Homo sapiens: one gene and its partner. The protein of the gene in region 2 purifies or fractionates together with the protein of the main gene of each other region. This does not show direct contact. Each region holds a gene or a part of one and is shown on either strand. Other genes may lie near its edges. The genes, in order: GNA11 and CXCR5.

Region 1 (3,069 bases), on a different chromosome or scaffold from region 2:
TTGACTTATGGCTCGCTTTTTTCTAAAAAAAAAAAAAAAAGAAAGAAAGAAAAAAAGCAACGAAACATAAAACACACAAGCGCCCCGTGCCCCCAGTGACTCTGGGCCTCACAGAGCCCCCGCCAGCCAGCATGGGGCCCCGCCCTGCAGCCAGTCACGCGCCCCCACACCGCAGCCCCCCGTGGCTGTCCTTCCAACCCCACGTGCTTTTTCTTTCTCCTGCCCGCTTCTTTTCTTCATCACAAAAGGCGTGGAGACTCGGAGACGGACGTTTTTCCCCTTTTTTAAGTTATTGACGCCCAGCGCGCCTCGCCTCTTCACCCATCAACGCTGTGCTTTGCCCACTGGACTCCTGAAGAGGGGGTGGGGGGCTCCCTCGGTCGCCCACCCTGGGAAGTGCCTAACCTTTTATTTTATTTTATTTTTTTGAGGAAAAAGAACGCCTGACTCACAGGTTGAAGAAACACCCTGGGCCCTCTCTCATGGCCGGGTTCCCCGTCCCTCTGCAGAGGCTGGGAAGGGTCCCCGGGCTGGAGCCACGGGGGCTTCTCTGGGCTGTGCCTCCGGGGCCAACACTGGCTGCTTGGGGCTGCCCGGGGACTCCAGAGGGCTGCACGGCCACCCTGCCCTGGCTAGAGCGCACCCCACCGGAGCCCACGTGGGCTGGGCGGCTGGAGGGATGGTCCCCCGGTGACACTGGGAGAAAGGCCACTTGGATGGGGGCGTTTCTGTTTTGTTCCGCTTTGTGATGTCACCAATTTGGAAACAGCGAGGGTGGGTGGGGACTTTTACAGAATATTCTCAGGTGTGTACCCGAGAGGCAGAGAGAGGGACGTGGCCGGCAGCTCTGTGCGTGGCCTTGTCCCAAGCACTTGCGCCCGCCCCCGAGCGCCGCCCCCGGGGAGCGGGAAGCCAGCACTCGCACTTTGGCCAGGGGCGCGTGGAAGGTGGTGGCAGGCACCGGCCTGGGCAGCTTCCAGGCCTGGCTGGCCACGACCACGGCCCGAGGGGGAGCCCGCCAGGCCACGCCGCACTGAGCCACAGCCCCGGGGGCCGCCTCCCGGGGCCCCTTGAGGCACTGAGGCACCGAGACTGGTTCTCCCCGAGAGACTCGGAAGGTGGGGAACGAGGGGACTGTGTTTGGGGAGGTGGCTTTTTCGTCTGCTGTTGACTGAACACTACAGCGCCCTGTGGTTCCGGGCTTCGCACAGCTGTCCCAGGGATGGATCGCCTGTGCTGCCTTCGCCCGCCGCCACACCGGGACCCTGCACGGCTGCTTCTGGCCTCGACAGATGACAAAAGAAACAGCCCCAAAATACGACCACTCCAACCAGCAGTTCCCGCCTGCCTGCCCGCCACTGTCAGGCCTGCCCTGGCCTCCTCGTCCGCAGGGCTGTCTGCTGGCTTCTGGGGGCAGAAGAGCGGGGAGCCCCGTGGAAGGGTCAGGGGAGACCAGGTCAGGGCAGCTACATTTCTGGTGATCAGCCCCATGGGGAGACGGGGCTGGCGGGATACCCCCCCCCCGGCTTCCCCACACCACTTCTGTCTCACCCGGAAGCGTCCTTTTTTTGTGCCAGGTGTCTACCTAAGAGGGTTGGTGCCAGAAGCCCCCCATGGCGAGTGCTGGGGCCCGGCGGTGCCCTGGGGGAGCAGATGGGGCCACCCCTGGCAGGGCCGCTACAACCTTTTCCAGCAGCGGAGCCCTCTGGGGGGCCTGTGCTTGTGGCATCTCTGAGGGCCTAGATTGCACAAGGTGACCTGGCCGTGGCCTGAGGGTGGAGTCGCCCAGCACGCAGGCCGGGGCGCTGCGGGGCTAAGTATTAGGCCTTCCCAGGGAGGGGGCGTGCCAAGCATCCCAGAGCCGGGCTGGGACCGCCAAAACGTCGTGGCCTGGATCCTCTGGGTCTGAGTGCCTGATCCCCTGCCCCCCAAAAAAGCAGAGGTAGGTGTTGCAGGCCCAGGGCAGGGGTGCCTGCCCCAGGAGAGTCCCAGGCAGTGGTTCTCGTGCCAGTGGCACCCAGGGGCAAGGACAGCCAACCCCCACCCTTGCCACGTGTGGGGCCACGTGGGCATGTGGGGTGTGTGTTTTTACCTTGGTGAATCTCACCTGCCAACGATTTCTCGTGAGTGCCGACCACCTTCTCCGACCATGTTACGCCCGGGCGGCAGCAGCCCCCGGCCACTGCAAACCCATGCCCTGGGTCCCCCGGCTCCCCCAGGGAGGCATCCCCGTGCCAATGTCCCCCAGTGGTGGCAGCAGATCCTGTGGCCGGCCTGGCGGACGGGACCCAGTGATACTTGTATATTACACAGTCCTGATTTCAGACAATTTCAACCTTAATCTATTTAAAAAAGAATATTCTATACAAGCTGTTTTTAAGCCTTTTACCATTTGAAATGCATGTGTTGTGCGCGTTGGGGATGGGAGGAGGGGCTGAGGAGCGGCTCAGTGTCACCTCCCACAGCCACCGGCCCTGACCCTTAATCCAGACACCGATGGAAGTCGACTTTTCATATCTTTCTCCTGAAATGAACTCTGTTTTAAATTGGAATAAATTTTGTTCCTAAATGCTGGCGGCCCCCTTCTGGTTTATTTCCTGTTGTCCTTCAAAGGGGGCTGGGGGGAAGTGTGCAGAGGCCTGGCCCCCAGGAGCCCTGGAGTTACCTAGGGCATTGCCTGACCTCAGTGGGGCCGCCTGGGTGCCTCCGCACGGTGTCCCGGGGCCCCTCCCCTGTCATCTTGTTTGACCCTTCACTTCAAGTTCATTTCACTAGCACCAGGCCAGAGCAACCTGCTTGGGAAATGCCACCTTGTTTGGGGGCTGGGGACAAGGGAGTGAGACGGGGAGGAGCCCAGGTCCCAGGCCAGCCTGCCCCTCACCTTCCAGGGCACCTGTGGGGACATCATGCCCTCCGGGCCTCCGTTTCTGTAAGCTGCGGATGTGGGACCTCTGCAGCCTTCCTTCAGTTATTTTTTCCTTTTGAAAAAAAATTGTAAAATACAGATAAATTTCTAAGTGCACAGCTCAGCGGCATTAAGTGTATCCACACGGTTGTGCAGCCATCACC
Region 2 (2,278 bases):
CTGTTCCACCTGGCCGTGGCCGACCTCCTGCTGGTCTTCATCTTGCCCTTTGCCGTGGCCGAGGGCTCTGTGGGCTGGGTCCTGGGGACCTTCCTCTGCAAAACTGTGATTGCCCTGCACAAAGTCAACTTCTACTGCAGCAGCCTGCTCCTGGCCTGCATCGCCGTGGACCGCTACCTGGCCATTGTCCACGCCGTCCATGCCTACCGCCACCGCCGCCTCCTCTCCATCCACATCACCTGTGGGACCATCTGGCTGGTGGGCTTCCTCCTTGCCTTGCCAGAGATTCTCTTCGCCAAAGTCAGCCAAGGCCATCACAACAACTCCCTGCCACGTTGCACCTTCTCCCAAGAGAACCAAGCAGAAACGCATGCCTGGTTCACCTCCCGATTCCTCTACCATGTGGCGGGATTCCTGCTGCCCATGCTGGTGATGGGCTGGTGCTACGTGGGGGTAGTGCACAGGTTGCGCCAGGCCCAGCGGCGCCCTCAGCGGCAGAAGGCAGTCAGGGTGGCCATCCTGGTGACAAGCATCTTCTTCCTCTGCTGGTCACCCTACCACATCGTCATCTTCCTGGACACCCTGGCGAGGCTGAAGGCCGTGGACAATACCTGCAAGCTGAATGGCTCTCTCCCCGTGGCCATCACCATGTGTGAGTTCCTGGGCCTGGCCCACTGCTGCCTCAACCCCATGCTCTACACTTTCGCCGGCGTGAAGTTCCGCAGTGACCTGTCGCGGCTCCTGACGAAGCTGGGCTGTACCGGCCCTGCCTCCCTGTGCCAGCTCTTCCCTAGCTGGCGCAGGAGCAGTCTCTCTGAGTCAGAGAATGCCACCTCTCTCACCACGTTCTAGGTCCCAGTGTCCCCTTTTATTGCTGCTTTTCCTTGGGGCAGGCAGTGATGCTGGATGCTCCTTCCAACAGGAGCTGGGATCCTAAGGGCTCACCGTGGCTAAGAGTGTCCTAGGAGTATCCTCATTTGGGGTAGCTAGAGGAACCAACCCCCATTTCTAGAACATCCCTGCCAGCTCTTCTGCCGGCCCTGGGGCTAGGCTGGAGCCCAGGGAGCGGAAAGCAGCTCAAAGGCACAGTGAAGGCTGTCCTTACCCATCTGCACCCCCCTGGGCTGAGAGAACCTCACGCACCTCCCATCCTAATCATCCAATGCTCAAGAAACAACTTCTACTTCTGCCCTTGCCAACGGAGAGCGCCTGCCCCTCCCAGAACACACTCCATCAGCTTAGGGGCTGCTGACCTCCACAGCTTCCCCTCTCTCCTCCTGCCCACCTGTCAAACAAAGCCAGAAGCTGAGCACCAGGGGATGAGTGGAGGTTAAGGCTGAGGAAAGGCCAGCTGGCAGCAGAGTGTGGCCTTCGGACAACTCAGTCCCTAAAAACACAGACATTCTGCCAGGCCCCCAAGCCTGCAGTCATCTTGACCAAGCAGGAAGCTCAGACTGGTTGAGTTCAGGTAGCTGCCCCTGGCTCTGACCGAAACAGCGCTGGGTCCACCCCATGTCACCGGATCCTGGGTGGTCTGCAGGCAGGGCTGACTCTAGGTGCCCTTGGAGGCCAGCCAGTGACCTGAGGAAGCGTGAAGGCCGAGAAGCAAGAAAGAAACCCGACAGAGGGAAGAAAAGAGCTTTCTTCCCGAACCCCAAGGAGGGAGATGGATCAATCAAACCCGGCGGTCCCCTCCGCCAGGCGAGATGGGGTGGGGTGGAGAACTCCTAGGGTGGCTGGGTCCAGGGGATGGGAGGTTGTGGGCATTGATGGGGAAGGAGGCTGGCTTGTCCCCTCCTCACTCCCTTCCCATAAGCTATAGACCCGAGGAAACTCAGAGTCGGAACGGAGAAAGGTGGACTGGAAGGGGCCCGTGGGAGTCATCTCAACCATCCCCTCCGTGGCATCACCTTAGGCAGGGAAGTGTAAGAAACACACTGAGGCAGGGAAGTCCCCAGGCCCCAGGAAGCCGTGCCCTGCCCCCGTGAGGATGTCACTCAGATGGAACCGCAGGAAGCTGCTCCGTGCTTGTTTGCTCACCTGGGGTGTGGGAGGCCCGTCCGGCAGTTCTGGGTGCTCCCTACCACCTCCCCAGCCTTTGATCAGGTGGGGAGTCAGGGACCCCTGCCCTTGTCCCACTCAAGCCAAGCAGCCAAGCTCCTTGGGAGGCCCCACTGGGGAAATAACAGCTGTGGCTCACGTGAGAGTGTCTTCACGGCAGGACAACGAGGAAGCCCTAAGACGTCCCTTTTTTCTCTGAGTATCTCCTCGCAAGCTG

The links.
Region 1: the proteins of CXCR5 (region 2) and GNA11 purify together in Homo sapiens (affinity purification with western blotting; one study listed by BioGRID). This does not show direct contact.

What each region holds. Positions count from the first base shown.
Region 1 is NC_000019.10:3,121,431-3,124,499, forward strand, and holds the end of GNA11 (guanine nucleotide-binding protein subunit alpha-11), read left to right. Parts: 3' UTR 1-2,569; downstream 2,570-3,069. UniProt on the Homo sapiens protein: Guanine nucleotide-binding proteins (G proteins) function as transducers downstream of G protein-coupled receptors (GPCRs) in numerous signaling cascades.
Region 2 is NC_000011.10:118,893,812-118,896,089, forward strand, and holds part of CXCR5 (C-X-C chemokine receptor type 5), read left to right. Parts: coding exon 1-852; 3' UTR 853-2,278. UniProt on the Homo sapiens protein: Cytokine receptor that binds to B-lymphocyte chemoattractant (BLC). Involved in B-cell migration into B-cell follicles of spleen and Peyer patches but not into those of mesenteric or peripheral lymph nodes.